Linked DNA regions of Homo sapiens: all the other regions are linked to region 1. The links come from fine-mapping of genetic effects on plasma protein levels. A gene starts in region 1. Each other region holds a variant in brackets. All regions are shown on one strand. Distances are between the middles of the regions.

The links. PIP is the chance, under the fine-mapping model, that this variant and not a neighbour inherited with it causes the effect. Protein levels are from antibody-based Olink assays in UK Biobank. Linkage for the fine-mapping came from a reference panel and not from the study's own genotypes, which makes the PIPs less certain.
Region 2: its variant is fine-mapped to the plasma level of the CCN3 protein (UK Biobank, PIP 0.94).
Region 3: its variant is fine-mapped to the plasma level of the CCN3 protein (UK Biobank, PIP above 0.99).

The regions. Positions count from the first base shown.
Region 1 is chr8:119,409,931-119,418,119 of GRCh38, reverse strand. It overlaps CCN3 (cellular communication network factor 3), which reads right to left and starts at 1,674. Exons shown (of 5, transcript NM_002514.4): 1 at 1,504-1,674; 2 at 1,151-1,376; 3 at 1-62. The coding sequence starts at 1,587. It overlaps LOC124902009 (a long non-coding RNA gene), which reads left to right and starts at 1,811. Exons shown (of 2, transcript XR_007061077.1): 1 at 1,811-3,149.
Region 2 is chr8:119,358,435-119,366,623 of GRCh38, reverse strand. The region is part of intron 1 of LOC124902009 (a long non-coding RNA gene); the gene reads left to right. Among named protein-coding and RNA genes, the nearest start is that of MIR548AZ, 37 kb to the right of the region's middle. The variant C/T (reference allele first, on the strand shown) is at 4,584.
Region 3 is chr8:119,451,758-119,459,946 of GRCh38, reverse strand. No RefSeq gene overlaps it. Among named protein-coding and RNA genes, the nearest start is that of CCN3, 39 kb to the right of the region's middle. The variant C/T (reference allele first, on the strand shown) is at 5,008.

The DNA.
Region 1 (8,189 bases):
CTGAAATTTCTCTCCACTGCGGTAGATGACCCCATCGAACACACAGTTATCTCCCTCTACCGCTAGAATATTGGGGAAGCAAAGTGAAAAGCAAAGAGGAAGAGGAAAAACAAGAACACAATACAGTGAAGAAGCTATGTAAGATTTGGAGGGCATGTTCCAAAACCCAAGTCCTTTTCTAGTTCAGGCGATCTGGTTTCTCATGTATCTACTGTAGAGTGATGTCCTCATGGAGGCCTCTCAGAGCAAGAAGAAACCTTCAAGATCATCTAGTCTTGCCACTCATTTTATGGATGAGGAAAGAGGTGTGCAACTGTGAAGTGATGTCCCCAAGGTCCCCTGGCCATTTTTCCCAATGTTCAGTCATTTTGCGAGAACCTCCTTAGAGTTTCCTACTCCAGCAGCTTAGACTTAAAAAGAGAAAAAGTGTACTTTATGTTTTCCAACAGGTTAGCTGATCAAATTGGGAAGGGCATTAAGATTCCTTGACACTCAAGCATAATAAAATCATCAGTAGCTTAGAGAAAAAAGTAAAAGCCCTCCTGTCCAGAAAGGAAGGGACAATCTTCAACTACAATGTTGTATCATGTGAAAAATTGATCCCCGACTGATTACGTTTTAGAAGCCTGGATTGGCTAGTTGCCTGCATTTTATTTTACTTGCAGCCAGAAAAGGGTTACATAGTTATCCCAGGAGACTAGCAGCTGCTTTGGTTCAAATGGGACAATTACAGGTGTGAAAACAAACCTGCTGGGTTTTCCCCAACTGCAGTTTGGGAAACTGTGAGCGTGTGAGTAAACCCGAGCTTCCATCAGCCCCAAGTGGCCCCCTAGAAGTGTCCGAAGGAAATGACTTCACTGGCCCTTAACTCTGCGTGGCTCCCCCTTTGCTTAGATTCTTGTCTAGGAAGCCAAGTGAGGAATGCCTTTCACCCCCAGGGCAGGTTTCCTTTCTGGCTCTGGCGCTCCCCAAAGCCCCAAGTGCTCCCCAAACCATGCCTGACACACAGTAAGTGCTCTATACATGTCATTTATTGCATTATTATTATTTGCTTATCGCCCTCTGGGAAGGGGAATACAAAAGAGAAGGGAGGAAGCAGCTTCACTTAGCTGCAGGAGAAGAGGTCAAACAGCAGAGGGAGCAGGATTACCCGTGCAGATGCCAGTCTGGTTGCTGGGGTCCGCGCTGCGATCACAGTAGAGGCCACTGCTCTCGTCGCATGGCTCCAGATCTGAGCAGCTCTCGCCACGCTGGCGGGCACACACCAGACAGCATGAGCAGCCGTCCAGCACCGCGCGCACCCCGGGGGCGCAGGTCGGCGGCGTCGCAGGGCACCGGCCCGGGCACTGGGGAGGGCAGCGCTGAGTCGCAGCGACCTGAAGGCAGGCGAGACAAGGAGAAACCACTCAGCTGGGACAGAAGACGCAGTGAGCCCGGTGACCAAATGGGGGCCACCAAGGCGGGCAAAGTAACTTGGGGGCATCTTAAGGGTGTGCCACTTACCTGTCCCAGGAGATGGAGAAGCAGGAAGGTCAGGCAAAGGCACTGCTTTCGGAGACAAAAGCTCGTGCTCTGCACACTCTGCATGCTCAGGCTTTCCCCTCTCGCTTTTACCAAACGAGACTTTCTTCGCTGTAGATTGGCACTGCTCGCCTTCCCCCTGGTCCGGTGCTTGCCGATCACGCCCAGCACAGGTTTTATAGCGCGCTCCTGGGACGCGCACAAGCCGGTTGGCTGCAGTGCAGGGAGGAGGGGGGAGATCGGCTGGGTGGGGAAGTGGAACGAACCCCGGGGTTGCCATGGCAATTGGCTGTGGGTGCTGCTCTCCTTAGGGCGCGGCGCCGGGGCCTGCGTGTGCCTGTGTGTGGCGACTGGCTTTTCCCAGAGGGTGGGGAGGGGCTGGGTGGAGTTCCGAGGCCAGGACCCAGGGCTCGCTCGAGCGCGTGGGAAGGAAACGCCCGTTTCCTCCTGGAAGTTGCTTCGCCTTCTCCCAGGACGAAGACACCACCACTCCCCACCATCCTCCTCCACCCTGACCGTTCCAACCAGGGCTGCAAGCGTGGGGTCCCCTTACGGGATGCCTGCAGTTTGGGGCCATCTGCAGGGGATTGGCAGAAGGCCCAGGGGTTTAGTCATGAGGGAAGCACATGCAAGTTTGTCACCGTTTAGGGCACTCATTGAATGTGTTGAGAGGGAGGGGAGAGAAGCAAGGGAGGAAAGGAGAGAAAGAGGAGAAAGAGAAAAGTGTGTGTGTGTTGGGGGGAGGGGAGTGGCAGGGGGAAGGGAATCTAGAAAAAAAATCGATATGTCAGGAGGTGGGGAATGCTATTGGCCAAATGGCAAAATTCTTTTGACTCTAATCCTTCTAGCTTCACTCAGTCTTAAACCCCAAGGTCCACAGGTTTGTTAGAAATAAAAGTAAAACACACACACACACACACACACACACACACACACACACACATAAAGAAAACATCATAAAATAAAACAAAGAAATCTTGGCAGAAGAAAGCCTTGAAGCACCTGCTGTAGCAGACCAAATGTGAGACGGCACACCTGAGAGTCCAGAAACCTTTGACAGTTTTCTAAGTGGGTTCAGTTCAACCACCATCACCACCATCAAAACCTCCAGCCAGGGAAGAAATGAGGAAGAAACTGGCTTAACTTGGCTGACCCTTCAGCAAATCAAATCCTTCTCTCACCGGGCATCCGCTTTCAAGAAATGATTGCTGGGGCATGCTTGTCATCTCTCATGGGAAAAAGGGAGCAGTTTTACTGCTCCAAAGGTGACATTGTTTGAAGGATTTAGAACAGTTTCCCCCCACACTTCAACACTGGTGCTGCCCCTAGGAGAACTATGCCCAGCTCTTTTGAGGATAGTTGCTTTGGAAAAAAACAAAAAACACTTTTTAAGGAAAATTATACAGGCCTGTGATGTAATTCTAGAGTTTAAAAAGAAACAAATGGCCTCTACCTCATCTGTCCCCAGCATGAAGGAAATCAAAGGCAGCTTGCGGAAGGGGCCAGGTCTGCCTCTGCAACACCCGCAGATGATGAGGTCACCTCAAGCCCCTTCTAGATAATTCTCTCGGCAGCCTGAAACCACTATGACACACTTCCAAGCCTCTAATAGTTCTGCTTTCTTTGAGGTAAATGAGACTGAGTAGTACTCAAACTTAACTAGAGATGAAACAGTTCATTTGCACTCTTGAGTAGGACATTTACCTACTCTTCAAATTGATAGGCTTTGGAGGGTGGAGGGTGGGAGCAGGGAGAAGATCGGGAAAAATAACTAATGGGTACCAGGCTTAATACCTGGGCGATGAAATAATCTGCACAACAAATGTCCATGACACACATTTACCTGTGTAAACAAACCTGCACATTTACCCCTGAACTTGAAATAAAAGTTTAAGAAAAAGATAAAACAAAAAACAAAAAAACTGATAGGTTTTGTAAGCCATTTGGCCTAATGATGCCTCCATCTGGCTGCAGATCGAATCAACCAGCATGTATTTTGTTAAAAATACAGATTCCTGAGCCCCACTCTTGACCCACTCAGTAGGATTCTCTGGTGGTGGCTCTTGGTAGACAGCATTTTAATGTACTTTGAAATGGAGCAACTAGAAGCACTGCTAATGGGGAGGCAAAGAGCATCGGCCAAGTGTTCCAAGCATGAATAGACTCAGATAGAACAAGGAGAAATTGGCAACATGGAGATTGGGCTAGCTCTTCTTGGAAAGAGTGGGGTGGGAGTGGTGACAGGGAAAATGTAACTTTAAGACAAGGATTAACATGTCAAGAAGTCACTGCAAGTGTAAAATTGCTATTCAGTTTTGATTGCAAGAGATGGAAACCAAACTTGAACTAGTTTTTGCGAAAAGAGGACTTTACTGGAAGGATGCTGTGATGTTTCACATAGTGACAGCACAGGAATGGTACAGGGAGTCCTCAGAGGCAATTGGGATCTAGAGAGAGGAGGGCCAACAGGATTACTTCCACATAAGGGAAAAATGATCCTTCCAATCTTCTTACTTTATGACCTTATCACCACAGAAGGAATGTCCCTGTCTCTTAGGCCCAACTTTAAAAGTTCCAGGAATTAAATTGGATGGGTTCACCCTGGACTAATCAATGGGGACAAGGAAGGTGAAGTATGGGGATTAGTTAGAACCTCATGGTTGGAATGGAGAGAAAGAGCAGTTCTCTTGGGAAGAAAGGACTGTTCCTTAAAAAGAAAGCAAGCTTGGTGAGCAAAACAATACACATCCACTCCATCATCTGCTATAAATGCTCTAGGATGAGGATCTTCATCTTAAAACAATTGTAAATTGAAAGTGATACCATCTGATGATAATCATGTCATGTCATGCTTCACTGCCTCCAGGACATAGTCTCTGAAATCCTTCATGCCGGGATAGATGTTATCCGCAGTGCAGGCCTGGGATGCCGAGCTTATCTCTTTTATCTCATAACTCACTGGATAATCATTATAGTCACACCATTTAATGATGGGGATATTGTTGGAGAAATGTGTCCTTGGGTGATTTCATTGTTGTGTGAACATCATAGAGTGTAGTTACACAGATGCGGATGGTGTAGCCTACTACACACCTAGGCTGTATGATATAGTCTATTACTCCTAGGCTACAAACGTACAAACAGTACAGAATATACTGCACTGAATACTGTAGGCAACTGTAATACAATGGTAAGTATTTGTGATTTAAACATATCTAAACTTAGAAAAGGTGCAGTAAAAATATGGTATAAAAGATAAAAAATTGTCCACCTGTGTAGGGCACTTACCGTGAATGGAGCTTGCAGTGGGTGTCAGTGAGTCAGTGGTGGGTGAATGTTAAGGCCTTGGACATAACTGCACACTACTATAGCCTTTATAAACACTACACTTAGGCTAAGCTAAATTTATTCAAAAATTTCCTTTTTCAATGATAAATTAACTTTAGCTTACTGTAACTTTTTTACTGTATAAACTTTTAATTTTTTTAACTTTTCGACCCTTTTGTAATAACACCTACCTTAAAACACAGATACATTGTACAGATGTACAAAAATATTTTCTTTATATCCTTATTCTACAGGCTTTTTTTTTTTTTTTTTTTTTTTGAGATGGAGTCCCTCTCTGTCACCAGGCTGGAGTACAGTGGTGCAATCTTGGCTCACTGCAACCTCTGCCTCCCTGGTTCAAGCAATTCTCCTGCCTCAGCCTCCCAAGTAGCTGGGACTATAGGCACACACAACCACGCCCAGCTAATTTTTTGTATTTTTAGTAGAGACAGTGTTTCACCATATTGGCCAGGGTGGTCTCAATCTCTTCACCTCGTGATCCACCTGCCTCGGCCTCCCAAAGTGCTGGGATTACAGGCATGAGCCACTGTGCCTGGCCTCTATAAGCTTTTTTCTAGTTTTAATATTTTTATTTTTTTTTTTTTTGTGAAAAATAACACACAAACATACATATTAGCCTAGGTCTACACAAGGTCAGGATCATCAGTGTCACTGTCTTCCACTCCACATCCTGTCCCACTGGAAGGTTGTCAGGGGTAATAACACACATGGAGCTGTCATCTCCTCAGATAACAATGTCTTCTTCTGAAATACTTTCTGAAGGATCTGCCTGAGACTGTTTTATAGTTAACTTTTTTTTATGAGTAGAAGTATGCTCTAAAATAATGATGAAAAGTATAGTAAATACATAAACCAGTGACATAGTCACTTATTATCATCATCAAACATGGACTATACATAATTATATGTGCTATACTTTTATATGCCTGAAAGTGCAGTAAGTTTGCTTACACTAGCATTACCATAGACACATGAGTGTGCTACAATGTCATGACAGCTACTATGTCACTAGGCTATAGGAATTTTTCAGCTCCATTACAGTCTTATGGGACCACCATTGTACATGCCGTCCGTAGGTGACCAAAATATTGTTATGTAAGATGTGACTGTACTTGTCTGTTTTGGTGACTGCCTCCCTGTCCTGCCTGGGAGTCCTTGAGGACACAGAGCATGTCGTATTTACAGTAACATCCCCAACATCCACCTCAGGGTCAGGCAAGTGGTCAGTTCTTGGACCTTTTGAGATACTGCAAACTCCACTTTAAGTTTTGCCACTTTTCATTGCTCTGCATAAGATGAGATAAGAAACAAACTGGAGGCTGTTTGCTCTTCAGCAGCAGCTAAATTGGTCCTATCAGCCACCACCCATCAGCCTGTGACATGAAACTTCTCTGGGTCTTGCTTGGCACTAAAAGGATGGAATACAGGCTGGTGATCTTCTCCTGTTTGAAATAATCCATGTGGCAGTTGAGGTCTCTGGGAGAAGTCAGGGGATACCTTATTAGAGATTCTTTTTTGAATTGCTGGGCTTGGCAGCTAACCATGGGGTTATGAACTGCAAGGACTTTGGCCAATTTACTTTTCCCCCTTTAATTTTGTCCTCTCCTTTCATCCCCTCATCACAGATGTGACATCAGGGGCTCATTTTTGCCTTTTCTTTTTCACATAGCCTGTTAATTGATTTATATTCTTATTACTTCTCAGTCAGTACTCTTATCCAGAACACACTTAGAGAATTGCCTACATTTTCTAAAGGTACTATGTTGTTTTCAGTGCTATTGTGTTATCTTTCTTATTATTATGAAAAATTTAAAAAATTGGTGCTAAGTTCTGTAGCAGGTAGTTAAAATAGCACAGCCCCTGCCCCCATATTAAAAAAATGAAACAACCTCATAGAAGTAGAGAGTAGAATAGTGGTTACCAGAAGCTGGGGGAAGTCAGGAGGGGAGGACATGAGGAGTCAGTCAGTGGGTACAAAGCTACAGTTAGGAGGAATAAATTATCCTGTTAAATTGCACCATAGGGTGACTATAGTCAACAATAATATTTCAAATACTAAAAATGCTCATCATCACTGGCCATCAGAGAAATGAAAATCAAAACCACAATGAGATACCATCTCATGCCAGTTAGAATGGCAATCATTAAAAAGTCAGGAAAAAACAGGTGCTAGAAAGGATGTGGAGAAATAGGAACGCTTTTACACTGTTGGTGACCGTAAACTAGTTCAACCATTGTGGAAGATAGTGTGAAAATTCCTAAAGGATCTAGAACTAGAAATACCATTTGACCCAGCCATCCCATTACTGGGTATATACTCAAAGGATTATAAATCATGTTGCTATAAAGACACATGCACACGTATGTTTACTGTGGCACTATTCACAATAGCAAAGACTTGGAACCCACCCAAATGTCCATCAATGATAGACTGGATTAAGAAAATGTGGCACATATACACCATGGAATACTATGCAGCCATAAAAAAGGATGAGTTCATGTCCTTTGTAGGGACATGGATGAAGCTAGAAACCATCATTCTGGGCAAACTATTGCAAGGACAGAAAACCAAACACCGCATGTTCTCACTCATAGGTGAGAATTGAACAATGAGAACATTTGGACACAGGATGGGGAACATCACACACTGGGGCCTGTCATGGGGTTGGGGGAGGAGGGAAGGTTAGCATTAGGAGATATACCTAATGTAAGTGACCAGTTAATGGGTGCAGCACACCAACCTGGCACATGTATACATATGTAACAAACGTGCACGTTGTGCACATGTACCCTAGAACTTAAAGTATAATAAAAACAAGTTTCAAATACTTCAGAATAGCGAGAAGACAGGATTTTTAATGTTCCTACCACAGAGAAATCAAGAGCATTTGAGGTGATGGCTATGCTATTACCCTGATTTGATCATGATGTAATCTATACGTGTCTTGAAAAATCACACTGTACCCCTTAAGTACGTAGAATTATGATGTATCAGTTTAAAAACAACATACAACTAAAAAAAAGGAACAAAAGTGGTGATAGTGATGTTATCACCTTCAAGACAACTCCCTGCCTCTTTTTTTCTCAGTGATTGTATTCTCCGTAAACTCAAAGGCATTCATCCTGTCTTCATTTAGTCATTGTTTAGCCAAGCCACATGTACTTAGCTTTCATAATGTGCCTCATAAATCAACCCCACAGCTTTTTAATAATTTTGTTGCTCTTTTCTGAATTTCATTCATATGTCCCTTTTCTGGGGCCCCAGGGAGTTGATAGAACACAAGGTAATTTCCACTATATGTTAGGCAGGCCAGGCCTAA
Region 2 (8,189 bases), 51 kb after region 1:
AAAAGAGAAACACTGAGAGGAAGCAAATGAGTTTGATGTTGTTGTTTCTCTGAAGGGCTCTGCCTCTGCCCTTCTCCTGGGATTATTCAGAAAGAGGGAGATGCCGGACCTCCCGAGTGATTTGGGACATCTTCAAATAAAAGAGAAATTACCATGATTTTTCTCTTTGAACCTGAGGAATCAACAGACTTGTAGATATTTTTCCAAGTGATTATGACACAGAAGGAGTAGAGGAGATGTGGATGCACAGTGGGCAGGGCAGAGAGACTGGGACAGTCCTGTTGAGTTCTCTGTAGATACAGAATACTGTGGAATCTCTGTAGATACAGAATACCATGGTGGAAAATCCAGTTGTGCCAAGGGATGTCGTAGTCAGGACAGCAGCTGGGGTGAATGCACATGCCGTGTGGACAGGGACTAGGCAGCAGTGACAGCAAGGAGGACAAAGGACAGCCAAGGAGGTCTAAGGACAACCCCTAATGAAACAGAGTTGTGTAAATCTTAGTGGAAGTGAGCAGGATAGCTGATGACTTAAAATAAAGTGTCTTACCCTGGATGCTAAGTTACTTCAAGGGTCTCCTAATTCTTAGGAGCCCCACAAAGTCAGGGAGGTGCTGAACCATAAATTGGCTGAGTTTACTTGGAATTGATTGAGAAAAACTTTGAGTGAATGAATTTCCCTTGAAATTGCAAAATTCAATTTCTGCTCTAGGTACCATAGGAGTTTTGGACAGAAAGTAGGAAAAATACTTGCATTTTTTGCATACTTGAGATTTGTGGTTTGAAAATTCAAAATCTTAATAAGAGTTTAAAGAGAGAGAAAGTGGAGAGTTTGAAACAGTCAGTTATTCTCTCTGAAAGGGGAAAAATGTTTTTACCATGTAAATAATTTCTCCTTCCTGATATACCAAGTTTACTTCCATAATCATAATTATCATGAATAAGGATTGAACATGATGCCAACATTTATATGCATATTTCATTTGTGTCTCATATTAATCTATCAGGTATAAGGAATTTTGCTCATTTTGTAGATGAAAAAAACAAAGGTCTAGAATATGTTAAATAATTTACCAAATGTCACAAGGCAAAATTCACCATATTCCAAACTGTTTCTTTCTAACCTCTCTTTCCAGCTTTCATCTCACCCAGCCAATAACTAATGGTAATTACTTCCATTTAGCAAGACTTCCTTTTGACAGAGATCGAGCCAATTGTTCCAAATATTTAATTTCCCTTAATCCTTAAAAAAAGTTCATGGTTTTTGGTATGATTTATTTCAAATCACTACTTGGATGATTTGAAATAAATTACCTAACTGAGCCAACTAGTAAGCACTAGAAGCAAGATTTAAACCTAAGTCTGTCTGTCTCAAAAGCTCATATTCTTAATTATACTAACACTCTTCTGCCACTCAGACACCTGAATCTACCACTCCTAGGAAACCTTTCCTAACAAACTGAAGGAGTGATGATTATGCCCTTTTATCTTTCTGTTCACTTCAACAACATATGTATTGGTCAGTCACAAAATTCATGCCCCCTTCTTCTTGGGTATGGTGGTGTGTAGTAGGAATGGAAGTGATAGGTGCCATTTCCAGGCCTGGTGCATTGATTCCCCAATGCCTTTCACCATGCCCTTTCTCCTGGATCTGGCTGCATACAGGTGCAGATAGACCTTAGAGGATAGTAGAACAACAGGATGGAAGCATCTGGAGTCCCTGAATAACAGCTTGGAGGAGCAGCATCTCCAGAGAACTGATACCTGCTCAGGACTGTCGGGGAAAAGCTTCTACTGTACTGAACCATGATTCTATTTTGGTATATTTGATATTTGCTGCAGCATCTTAGTTTATTCTAAAGAATACAATGGAAAAGGACATGGCAGGAAAAAGGTAACCAATAGAAAGTAGGGGAGATGTATTAAAATCAGACAAAAAGCATTATTGAGAGATTACTATTAGCACATGGCAATGACATGCATTTTACAGAGAACACTCTGGCTGTAACGTGTTTTGGCTGTGAGCAAGCCCAGAACAAAATTGGGAGTAGGAAGAGCAATTAAGAAGCTATAGTAGCAACCCAGGATAAAAATGATGGGGACTGACCCAGAATGGTAGAAGATGAGTGAACAGATTTTAGTGATTTTAAGTTTGGAAAATCAATAGAACTTTAAGTGGTTGGTTATATGTGACTGAGAAAGGGGAAAGGGGGAGGACTCAAGGATAAGACCTATGCTTCCGGCTGGATGATGGTGATGTCATTTACAGATATACATACTATAGGAGAAATGGTAGGTAGGTGAGTGGAATGGCAATGATGAGTTTGGTTTTTATTTTTATTTTTTAAATTTTAATTAATTTATTTTTGAGGCAGAGTCTCACTCTGTCACCAGGCTGGAGTGCAGTGACGCAATCTCAGCTCACTGCAAGCTCCACCTCCTGGGTTCAAGCGATTCTCTGGCCTCAGCCTCCTGAGTAGCTGGGACTACAGGCACGTGCCACCACGCCTGGCTAATTTTTGTATTTTTTTAGTAGAGACAGGGTTTCACCATGTTGGCTAGGATGGTCTCGATCTCTTGACCTCGTGATCTGCCTGCCTTGGCCTCCCAAAGTGCTGGGATTACAGGTGTGAGTCACCACGACTGGCCGGTGAATTTGTTTTTTAACATGTTGCCAAGAGGGACTTGGAGGGTTGACTAAACAGATTTGGAGCTCAGGAGAGAGAAACAAACTGGAAGTCTAGCTTTAGAATCAATGAGTGTTTACTTGGTAATACCAAGAAAGTAGATGAGTTTTTTTTTTTTTTTTTTTGTATTTCATGTAATAAATGAGGTGTTGTAATTGCTCCTCACAACCCCCACTCTTGCTGTGGACTCACCAGGACATAGAATGAAAACATCTCCACTATCCCCACTTCTTCCAAGAAAATCCAGCAGGTCTGAATTCTCCTTATCTCCAAGGGTCAGTGAACTCTGTGTGTGTGCATGCATGTGTGTGTGTGTGTGTGTGTGTACACTCATGCATGCAAGCCTAGGCTTGTGCATGTACAAGGCTCTCGGTATGATGAGGCTCCATTGTCAGAGACAAAATGAGGAGGCAGGCTGTGGTTTCAGTGGATTGAAACAGAGCCCAGTCTAAACCAGATAGATAATTTTACCAGACTGCAAATGTGAACAAAGTGTAATGAATTGGATAATTCCTGCTCATAATAAAACTATGAAGGTAGAAAGCTCTTTGGTGTAGGGGACTTACGCTGGTACCAGGAGAGACTTGGCACCAAGCTCCTCCTTTGGGAGCCTAGGTAAAGATCTCTATATCTGAAGGTGACATGAAGAACATGAGGCTGCTAGAAAAAGCTGTGCATATTTGAGTGGATAACAGTCTTAGGAAACAAACAATCACAATGTCTACCACTTTGTTATTGAAGATGAGATGCCACTGTCACAGTCTTCCTTGACTATGTAAGTCTGGGTTCTGTTACCCACAAAGAGTAGGGTAGAAAACATCCAGAATTGGCCCTAAAGCTTTTGCTTCTCTTAGTAAGTGGATACTTAAACCAGGTTTAATTTACTTTAGTGGGAGTAGGGGATACGGTGACATTTCTTTCACCTATATTATTAATAGAACATCTGTGACTATGGATAAATAACCTAGGGATGAAGAGGTTTAATATCCCTTTTCTAAAATCACATAAGCCATTCTTCTGCCTTCTAAATCCAGGTTGTTGTTTTTTTTCACTAAGATGGGTTGAAAGAAAATTCAGAGCTTCTAATCCCTGGTACCCTCATCTTTGCTCTACGCTACTTTCTTACAAAAGCAAGTTACCTTTGAATCTAACAGGTATGGTCACTTGAGGATGAGGAGAGTTATGTGCAAAGATGACACCCCTGTGATCAGAAGACATTCTCATAAGGATTCATATTGAATGAAATAGGATTCTGATCTATAGTGTTATATTTCTGATGCACAATACTGATGTTTGCCAAAATTAGCTTCCCCTCATTCTTGTTACCTTTAATGGCTAGGTTATTTCAGCTCAACATATAGTATCTATATGGACCTGAATTATTCATGAGGCTGAAAGCATAGCTGTATTCAAAGGTGTTCTGGGTGACCTGCGTTTCACAAGCTGCTTCATCAAAGCTGAGCATGGTTCCCTGGGTTTTAGTGATGCTCTCATCTGCCAGAGACTGACTGGAATATGCAGTCACTCATGGTGAAAGGGAAACATGTTTCTCATTCAGCAAGTATGTGGTTCCATCCACAGAGTTTACAGCACGGTTGTATTTGAAGTTCAGTCCTAGAACTTTGTAGCAGTAAAAATGATCGTGATTTATAGGAAAATGTCACTCGGCCATCTCCACTATAAAAGCCTTTTATAACTCTCATCGAATATAAATCAGGATGTATGCAGCCAACAAAATGATGATTTTGGCATAACGTTTTCAAGACAAAAAGAAATGGCCTAGAATTGTCTTGGCTTTTTACTGAGGACAAATATTACAGGAATTTATTGCTGGTCCAAGATCAATATTCCTGTCTTTAAAAATAGATATGAGTAAATTTATGTCTTGGTGAAATT[C/T]CAATTACATAAATTAATTAAAGCAGTCACCACAGAGTTCACCCACAAATACCAAGGATGCCATGCCCTTTTTTTTTTTTAGGTTTTAGCTTTTGTTAAACCATATTCTAAGATACATAACTCAAGCTTAAAGCTATATTTCATTCTAATGGGGGAGGAAAAGGATGGGCCTCACAAAGGATTGATTCAAACTTGCTAAATTTCATGGTGGAAATACAAAAGAAGCTTCATATTGTACTCTTCTCCAAATGTCAACAAGATGTGAAAAATGATGATCGAACAAAAACTGCATTTGAAGTGATGGCCCCATTTTCTCATGTATTTTTGCATCACAGAATACTCAAGGTAGAGATCAGCATAAAGAAGTGAGGGCCAGGTGCAGTAGCTCACTTCTGTAATCCCGGCACTTTGGGAGGCTGAGGCGGGTGGATCACCTGAGGTCAGGAGTTCAATACCAGCCAGGCCAACATGGCAAAGCCCCATCTCTACTAAAAATACAAAAATTAGACAGGCATGGTGGCGGGTGCCTGTGATCCCAACTACTTGGGAGTCTGAGTCAGGAGAATCACTTGAACCCGGGAGGCAGAAGTTGCGGTGAGTGGAGATCGTGCCACTGCACTCCAGCCCGGGAGACAGAGTGAGACGCCGTCTCAAAAATAAATAAATAAATAAATAAATAAATAAATAAATAAATAAATAAATAAAAATAAAAAGAAGTGAGGATTGAGAGAATCCACGATCATGTGAGAATCTGGAAAGAACATCCAGTTCTGTGGCAGCGAAGGAGAGGAGGTAAAAGATCCTTACGTGACTGCCTCAGGGGTGGAAAAAGAATGTTGAGATGCATTGGGAAGAATGATCTCTAAAAGGCTATAAGGAGGTGCTCAGAAAGCAAATCAGGTAAATAAAAAAAAACTTGGCTTTTCTTTTTTTCAGGCAAGTGAGCTCACTCCCCTTACTCCTCTCACTCCAGCACTTACCTTGACATATCTCACCCAAAATATTGTTGAGAGGCAATATTAGGCTCTATGCTGGGCAACTTCGAAGTCCTACTGCTGGCGTGAAGTGAAGGGCAGTCAATATAAGAACTTTTAGGAACTGTTGAAGGAATCAGAAATGTTCATCCTAGACAAGGGAAGTCCCTAGAGACCATGGTACCTGTTGTGTAGAAAAGGAAATATACCTGTTGTGTGAGGTCTCAATGGTTTGATGTAGTATTAATAGAAAGATCTCACATTCATATATTCCACAAAATGTGTATTAAGCGTTATATGCCAGGCAGAGTTTTAGGCACTGAAAATACAGAGAGAGAGAGAGAGAGAGAGAGAGGGTTTTGATTTAATATAAAGCACAGCATTCTTCCCGTTTCTTTTTTTATTTTTAAATTTGAGACAGGGCCTCACTCTATCACCCAGGCTGGAGTGCAGTGGTATAATCTCGGCTCACTGCAACCTCTGCCTCCCAGATTCCAGCCGTTCTCCCACTTCAGCCTCCCCAGTAGCTGGGACTACAGATGCATGCCACTACACCAGACAAATTTTTGTATTTTTTGGTAGAGAATGGGTTTCACCTTATTAGCCATGCTGGGCTCGAACTTCTGACCTCAAGTGATCCGCCTGCCTTGGCCTCCCAAAGTGCTGGGATTACAGGCGTGAGCCACTGTGCGCAGCCTATTCTTCCCTTTTCTTAATCAACATTATTGATTCTAGGTAGTATTCTAAAAAACATCATTTCACATATGGTTCTACTGCTCCTTTCATTGGCCAGTGTTTCCTCTTAGCCTTTGCTTATATAGCAGAAAATCTCTATCATAGTTATAAGGATCAGATATAATTTTATTCTACTTTTAAAATTTAAAAATAGGCCAATCGCTTCCTATGAGTATGAGGTATGAACTTTTTGGTGATGCACTGGGCTGACCTACAAACCAGTGAGTTTTCTATCCTGGGGTCTTTTAAGAAGAATCCAGGTGATTACTTGGAAGTTATTCAAATATTTATAGCAAGGCTGTAGGGATTGTTTTGAGAAGACACTAAAAGAAGGATAATGTGAAAAGAGGCCTAGTGACTCAGAGGTCTGGTGTTAGTGTATATAAAGGGGTTTAATATTGAAGCAGTATTTGAAGCTCATATTCCTCTCTTCTACAACTGTCTAATACTTTCTCCTAGTTCGTGTTTCAATGATTTTTGAATAATTGTTCTCTTTTTTTCTAGTTATCTTCTTAACAATATTATGGCTTTTTTTCCCCTAACAACTCTATGATAAGGAAGAACCCTTCTCATGTAGAAAATTCAGTGCACTATGGATGTCCCAAATATACTATCATCTTTATGGTGTTAGGATAAGCATCTCCAAGGAAGAGACAATGTTCCTAGATAAGATGGTGTTATGTTCTATTCCTCTGCCCTATTGTTAAGAATCATGGAAAAGAAGAGGGAAAATGGAGAACAGAGTCAGTGATATATAGTGTATCAGTAAGATACATGGAATCTTTGTAGAAATTCCTCTGAGTCGAGCTTGAGGCCTGTGACCTGTATGACAGTAAAATTATACTAGCTATGTAATATTTGACTCTCTTCTAAATTATCCCAGGATTATGAAGTATTACAACACAGATTCTGGTATCAATGATATTATCATATGAGACATATTATCAAATAAATTATGTTTAACTTTTCCAATGTATAAAAAAAGCATATAAGAAAATAATAGTGTTAAAATATTGGAAAGAAACCAGAATCACAGGACTTTTTTCTCCCTACATTTAAAAAAATTTAAAAAACAACAGGAAGTATTCATTTAGATACACACATGCTCTAATTTGCCAAATGTAGTGGTAAAGAAAGAAATAGAAGATTTTAATGAGGCTCAATTATTAACTTCTGGCAATGTCCAATTGCCAGAAACAGTATGGTGAAAGATTAGTGGACAACATCTTGAGATTTTGTATTAACAACTGCCCCTCCCCTTCTCCTTCCACATACTCACAGTAATTTGGAAAGAAATAAACTAAGGAGGAAAGTAAACAGAGAAAAAAAATAAGAAGAGAATTTTATATGAACTATCACATGAACTTGGAATCTTAGAAGAGGCCGAAAAACCAGCCTTGGCTCACTGTATTCTAAAACCCTAGGCTCAAGAAAGGAAGTGAACCCAGAAGGAGTGCACAGATTAGGTGATCTTGGGTTCCTGGACGTTTGGCAGAAATCTATGAAGAAAAAGAAGCACTTGGGCTCTTCCACAAAGGCTGAACATGGGCCCAGCAGACGAAATCCACCTCTATCCAGACCCTGAAGCTACAGAAAACTAGACAGAAGGGTAGGCATCCTACTCCTTGGGTGCAGCTAAGAAATGAAAACAAACAGGTCTTAAGTAAGAAAAGAGAGCTGACTTAAAAATCATTTACATTCAATAGAAGTTCTGGACAGAGTGCCATCTGCACATATTAAAAAGGAGAAATATTTTTAAAGAAATACTTGGCAATAATGCAAATATACTACCAGAAAGAAATAGAGGACAGAAGGAAGGAAGGAGGGAAGGAAGGAAGGAAGGAAAAAAGGAAGGAAGGAAGGAAGATAATGGAGGCTGGAGAAAGGAAAAGAGGGA
Region 3 (8,189 bases), 42 kb before region 1:
ATGGTAAAGGGATCAATTCAACAAGAAGAGCTAACTATCCTAAATATATATGCACCCAATACTGGAGCACCCAGATTCATAAAGCAATTCCTGAGTGACCTACAAAGAGACTTTGACTCCCACACAATAATAATGCAAGACTTTAACACCCCACTGTCAACATTAGACAGATCAACGGGACAGAAAGTTCACAAGGATACCCAGGAATTGAACTTAGCTCTGCACCAAGTGGACCTAATAGACATCAACAGAACTCTCCACCCCAAATCAACAGAATATACATTTTTTCAGCACTGCGTCACACCTATTCCAAAATTGACCACATACTTGGAAGTAAAGCTCTCCTCAGCAAATGTAAAAGAACAGAAATTATAACAAACTATATCTCAGACCACAGTGCAATCAAACTAGAACTCAGGATCAAGAAACTCACTCAAAACAGCTCAACTACATGGAAACTGAACAACCTGCTCCTGAATGACTACCGGGTACATAACGAAATGAAGGCAGAAATAAAGATGTTCTTTGAAACCAACGAGAACAAAGACACAACATACCAGAATCTCTGGGACACATTCAAAGCAGCGCGTAGAGGGAAATTTATAACACTAAATGCCCACAAGAGAAAGCAGGAAAGATCTAAAATTGACACCCTAACATCACAATGAAAAGAACTAGAAAAGCAAGAGAAAACACATTCAAAATCTAGCAGAAGGCAAGAAATAACTAAAATCAGAGCAGAACTGAAGGAAATAGAGACACAAAAAACCCTTCAAAAAATTAATGAATCCAGGAGCTGGTTTTTTTGAAAGGATCAACAAAATTGATAGACTGCTAGCAAGACTAATAAAGAAGAAAAGAGAGAAGAATCAAATAGATGCAATGAAAAATGATAAAGGGGATATCACCACCGATCCCACAGAAATACAAACTATCATCAGAGAATACTACAAACACCTCTATGCAAATAAACTAGAAAATCTAGAAGAAATGGATAAATTCCTCGACACATACACTCTCCCAAGACTAAACCAGGAAGAAGTTGAATCTCTGAATACACCAATAACAGGATCTGAAATTGTGGCAATAATCAATAGCTTACCAACCAAAAAGAGTCCAGCACCAGACGGATTCACAGCCGAATTCTACCAGAGGTACGAGGAGGAACTGGTACCATTCCTTCTGAAACTATTCCAATCAATAGAAAAAGAGGGAATCCTCTCTAACTCATTTTATGAGGCCAGCATCATCCTGATACCAAAGCCAGTCAGAGACACAACCAAAAAAGAGAATTTTAGACCAATATCCTTGATGAACATTGATGCAAAAATCCTCAATAAAATACTGGCAAACCAAATCCAGCAGCACATCAAAAAGCTTATCCACCATGATCAAGTGGGCTTCATCCCTGGGATGCAAGGCTGTTTCAATATATGCAAATCAATAAATGTAATCCATCATATAAACAGAACCAAAGACAAAAACCACATGGTTATCTCAATAGATGCAGAAAAGGCCTTTGACAAAATTCAACAACCTTCATGCTAAAAACTCTCAATAAATTAGGTATTGATGGGATGTATCTCAAAATAATAAGAGCTATCTATGACAAACCCATAGCCAATATCATACTGAATGGGCAAAAACTGGAAGCATTCCCTTTGAAAACTGGCACAAGACAGGGATGCCCTCTCTCACCACTCCTATTCAACATAGTGTTGGAAGTTCTGGCCAGGGCAATTAGGCAGCAGAAGGAAATAAAGGGTATTCAATTAGGAAAAGAGGAAGTCAAATTGTCCCTGTTTGCAGATGACATGATTGTATATCTAGAAAACCCCATCGTCTCAGCCCAAAATCTCCTTAAGCTGATAAGCAACTTCAGCAAAGTCTCAGGATACAAATTCAATGTACAAAAATCACAAGCATTCTTATACACCAACAACAGACAAACAGAGAGCCAAATCATGAGTGAACTCCCATTCACAATTGCTTCAAAGAGAATAAAATACCTAGGAATCCACCTTACAAGGGATGTGAAGGACCTCTTCAAGGAGAACTACAAACCACTGCTCAATGAAATAAAGGAGGATAGAAAGAAATGGAAGAACATTCCATACTCATGGGTAGGAAGAATCAATATCGTAAAAATGGCCATACTGCCCAAGGTAATTTACAGATTCAATACCATCCCCATCAAACTACCAATGACTTTCTTCACAGAATTGGAAAAAACTACTTTATAGTTCATATGGAACCAAAAAAGAGCCTGCATCGCCAAGTCAATCTTAAGCCAAAAGAACAAAGCTGGAGGCATCACGCTACCTGACTTCAAACTATAGTACACGGCTACAGTAACCAAAACAGCATGGTACTGGTACCAAAAAAAGAGATATAGATGAATGGAACAGAACAGAGCCCTCAGGAATAACGCCACATATCTACAACTATCTGATCTTTGACAAACCTGAGAAAAACAAGCAGTGGGGAAAGGATTCCCTATTTAATAAATGGTGCTGGGAAAACTGGCTAGCCATATGTAGAAAGCTGAAACTGGATCCCTTCCTTACACCTTATACAAAAATCAATTCAAGATGGATTAAAGACTTAAACGTTAGAGCTAAAACCACAAAAACCCTAGAAGAAAACCTAGGCATTACCATTCAGGACATAGGCATGGGCAAGGACTTCATGTCTAAAACACCAAAAGCAATGGCAACAAAAGCCAAAATTGACAAATGGGATCTAATTAAACTAAAGAGCTTCTGCACAGCAAAAGAAACTACCATCAGAGTGAACTGGCAACCTACAAAATGGGAGAAACTTTTCGCAACCTACTCATCTGACAAAGGGCTAATATCCAGAGTCTACAATGAACTCAAACAAATTTACAAGAAAAAAACAACCCCATCAAAAAGTGGGTGAAGGATATGAGCAGACACTTCTCAAAAGAGGACATTTATGCAGCCAAAAGACACATGAAAAAATGCTCATCATCACTGGCCATCAGAGAAATGCAAATCAAAACCACAATGAGATACCATCTCACACCAGTTAGAATGGCAATCATGAAAAAGTCAGGAAACAACAGGTGCTGGAGAGGATGTGGAGAAATAGGATCACTTTTACACTGTTGGTGGGACTGTAAACTAATTCAACCATTGTGGAAGTCAGTGTGGCGATTCTTCAGGGATCTAGAACTAGAAATACCATTTGACCCAGCCATCCCATTACTGGGTATATACCCAAAGGACTATAAATCATGCTGCTATAAAGACACATGCATACTTATGTTTATTGCAGCACTATTCACAATAGCAAAGACTTGGAACCAAGCTAAATGTCCAACAATGATAGACTGGATTAAGAAAATGTGGTACATATACACCATGGAATACTATGCAGCCATAAAAAATGATGAGTTCATGTCCTTTGTAGGGACATGGATGAAATTGGAAATCATCATTCTCAGTAAACTATCGCAAGGACAAAAAACCAAACACCGCATGTTCTCACTCATAGGTGGAAATTGAACAAAGAGAACACATGGACACAGGAAGAGGAACATCACACTCTGGGGACTGTTGTGGGGTGGGGGGAGGGGGGAGGGATAGCATTAGGGGATATACCTAATGCTAAATGACGAGTTAATGGGTGCAGCACCCCAGCATGGCACATGTATAAATATGTAACTAACCTGCACATTGTGCACATGTACCCTAAAACTTAAAGTATAATAATAATAAAATAAAATAAAATAAAAATATTTTTCATGCTTGTGTTATGATCTACCACATGGGAGATCCTGGTTAATATTCACATGTGCACTTGAGAGAATGTGTATTCTGCAGCTATTTAGTGTAGACTTATGCAAATTTAAATTAGATTAAATCGGTTGATAGAGTATTCCAGTCTTCTATATCCTCATTGATTTTTTTTTTCTTTTTTGTTTTTTGAGATGGAGTCTTGCTCTGTCGCCCAGGCTGGAGTGCAGTGGCGCGATCTCGGCTCACTGCAAGCTCTGCCTCCAAGGTTCACGCCGTTTTCCTGCCTCAGCCTCCCAGGTAGCTGGGACTACAGGCGCCTTCCACCACGCCTGGCTAATTTTTTTTTGTATTTTTAGTAGAGACGGCGTTTCATCATGTTAGCTAGGATGGTCTCGATCGCCTGACCTTGTGATCCACCTGCTTTGGCCTCCCAAAGTGCTGGGATTACAGGCATGAGCCACCACACCCTTCCTATCCTTATTGATTTTTAATATACTTATATCAAATATGTAGAGATGTATGTTAAAATCTCCAATTCTGATTGTTAATTTGTCTATTTCTCAGTTTTTGTCAATTTTTGATTCATGTTCTTGAAACTCTGATAATAAGGGCATACACATTTTGAAGTGTTATCTTTCTTGTTGAATTCACTATGTTGACATTATGGGGTGGTCTTTTTGATGACAACTTTCATTGTAATACACTTTATCTTATTTTAAAGTAACTACATCTACATTCTTATTCTTAAGTGTTTTCACGTTTTTCTGTACTTTTAAATTCTGCATATCCATTTATACTTAAAATATTTTTCATGTAAATAGCATATAATTGGGTCTCGTCCACTGGCTGAGGGAATGTTCTACACCCTTTTTGGTAGCTCTCACAGGGGTGCTAATCAGTACCAGTCAGGATGTGATCTGGTTTGGGGTGGTGTTTTGAATTTGATCTCACTATTAGGGCCATTAAAAAAACCAAGAGTCCAAGGTGGTTTTACTTCTTTTCATTCCAACCCCAACCTCCTTGCTGCCATAAGACTGAGATATTGGTTTTATCAGAAGTTATATTGAGCTTTTGGTTGCAGATTTGACTCAATGTCATTAAGTGCTTTGGAAGTGATTCAGGGTTCACCCTTTAGAAGTTCCCTGGGACCAAACATTGAGAGCCTGTTTCACCTTAAAACTAAACTATGAAACTTTAAGATTGTTAGACTCAGGTTTTGCTAGATGGTGAGGCTTTGATACTG[C/T]AAAGTCATGAGAACTGCAAACTGTAAGACTGTGAATTCAGGAAACTTCTTTTTCTTTCCAGCCCCACCCTAGCCTTTGCTTACTTTGAAAAATCCCCATGTGAGAAAATTACTGGATAGTAAAAGATTGTATCTGGGGCTCCTCCATTTTCAAATCTTGCATGCCAGCCCACAGAGTTGTCAAAAGCTGGGCTACTTTCTTCTCAAAGTGATGTGTGCAACATGTGTGTCATATCCTTAAAAGAAAGCTTGCGGGCTTCTTTCTCCTTTGTTCTTAATGGCTAGGAATTAGCGACAACCAGAGCAACTGTCTAGGACCCAGAACAAAAGTTAAATTTAAGACTGGCAGAACTTTATTCCTGAGTCTCCTTGAGGAGCAGAGCTTCTAGCCCCTTAAACTACCAACCTGTGGGACTGTTTTGTGATAATGAATGAAATTTCATCTTCCTAATCCCACTGTAACTTGGGATCTCTTTGTTACAGCACTTCAGCCTGTACCCTGTGTGATACAGAGTATTATATAGATGATATGTCTTGCTTAACATATTGTACTTTGTGTTATCTAGAGATTCATGACTTTAATTAAAATCTGATTAGGCCAGGTGCTCATGCCTTTAATCCCAGCACTTTGGGAGGCCGAGGTGGGAGGATCACTTAAGCCCAGGAGTTCAAGACCAGCCTGGGCAATATAATGGGACACGATCTCTACAGATGTGTGCCTATAGTCCCAGGAACTCCCAGCTACTTGGGAGGCAGAGGTGGGAGGATTGCTTGAGCCTGGGAGGTGGAGCCTAGAGTGTACGGTGATTGTGCCACTGCACTTCAGCCTGGATAACAGAGAGAGACTCTGTCTCAAAATAAAATAAAAAAGTAAAATAAAATAAAATAATAAATCCAACTAGTCCTAGAAAGTTCTAAGGCATTATCTCTTCACATACTGCACTTTCTTAACTTTTTCTGTTCTGTCTTTCTGGAACTCTGATTAGAAATCAGGTATTTTAATTCTATATTTGGTATTTCTCGACTTCTCTTCTATATTTTCCGTGTTAGTTTCTTGTGCTACATTCAGTATATCTTCTTGAGATCTATCTTTTAATTCACTTCTGTTATGTCTATTTTGCTCTTTTATCCATGTATGTAGTTCTATATTTAAACAACTGTTATTTCATTCCTAAAAGTTGTCTTTCTTGTTTTCCAAATCTGTGGGCTCATTATTTTGCTCTTTGACTAATTTTTATCTTAGCTTTATTTAAACTGTCTATACCTAGCTATTTTATATTCTGTGTCTGACAATTCTAATATCTATAGTAGTAAAGTCTCAAAATTGTTGATTTGTTGCTTCTAATGACTTTCACTCATGGTGGCTTATCTTATGTGTTTGGAGATCTTTGAGTATAAGCTCAGCTATGGTTGGTTTTAATTTGTGGGGATTCTCAGAATCTAAGCTAAGCTAAGGATACTTTCTTCCAGAGAAGATGTGTATTTGCTTTTATTTGAAGGCAGAGGTTGCTCTTAACTTTGGGTGACTGTCCTTAAGGCAATTTCAGCTTTTGCCTTTGCTTACTTGTCCCTCAACCTGTTTGAGGTTATCCTTCATTTTTCTTCATTGCTTTTTTTTTAAAGGAGAGTTTGAAGATTACCTTTTCTTCCTCCATTTAGAAGGTACATTTTTATGCAGGTTAATTGTTTTGTAGAAAATAGGCTTCCAATCATGAAAGTTTATGGCTTGTCCTTTTAAATTTGTTTTTGTATACTCTTCCTAAAGTTCCTTTTCTCTCCCCTAAGCTTGGCCAACTGTCATATAATCAACCTAGTTGTGCCCAGATTCTTTCTTTGCTGCCATATACATAATAAAAGAACACCATAGAAATTCTTCCATTGTATTAATTACCTCTTAAAAATGTAAGAAGTTATTTATCTTTTTTACCTTAGTGTATGAATGGACTAATGGTGGATACATACCACTGTAACCCAGGGTCCCCAAGTTTTTTGGGGTACAACTGTGGAAAAGTAACCACATGTAACTGTTGCACCTTGAGTTCTTATTGTTTCAAAAAGTTCCAGGAAGAAACTCAGCCCCAGAAAAACGAAAACCAATTGGATCCAGAGATGCCTGAATTGGAGATGAATTTTGGTGAACTCATTACCATACTAAAAACCCTGCCCAAGGAGGAGCTTATTCACCATTTTCTATACATGCAATACATGTAGAAGAATGATCAGTGACTGCACTCAAGCTCCCTTGACTCCACCTCTACATACAATGACTCAGCCAGCCAGCCTCATAACAGCCCTGTTTTCACCATTGTTCCAGGAGGCATTGCTTTGGGGAACTATCTGTGGTGTCCTCCTTCCTTATTGCAAATAATAATATCCCCTTGTTAAACCCTTCTTGGTCATGGTCATTGGGCTGTCACCTGCCAGGCAATTGAATCTACCTGTTGTGTGGGTAATACCACCTCTGACTTTTTCTGCACCTTTACACTCCGGTACAGGGCCTGGTGCCCAATAAATTCTGGTTGAAAATTTTCTATCTTCCATATTTTCTGTGGCTTGCAAATAACTGGAGACTTGGAGATAATGTGATAAATGAAGAAATCGCTAGAGTCACAAGAGAAACAAGAAGTTCAGTTTCTTCTTTGGAAATATTCCAAATACAATTATTTGTGGAAGGATTTCTGAGTGGTATGAAGAATGGAGATAAGGGGCAGGAAATTTACATTTTAATTTTCTTGGAAAAGTAAAAAAATGGCTAAGCAAACGTAGATATAAAGATATTTTTGTTTTGAAAACTAGTTTTTGCCCTAAGATGATAAATCACTTGAATGTGTGCAAAGAAATATATGCAACTATAATGCTCCCTAGTGGTCACTTTCTGCCAGAGCAAAGAACAAAATTGAGGTAGTATTCAACAAATAGGTGGTGTGTTGGGTATTCTGAAATGCAGAGACTGTGGTTTTCTTGAAGTCAAAGTTGCCCATGCAGAAATCCAAGAAAGTTTCCCTTTCCCCAGAAAACATTCCAATCACTAATAAATGTACATAATATTGGCCGAAGAAATAAAACCTACTTCATTATAAAAGACCACATACATACTAAAATTTTTCTTTTTTTCCACCAACATATTGACATTTGCTATCTGACAATCAGAAAGTTTAATTACTCATGACTTATGCTCCCAA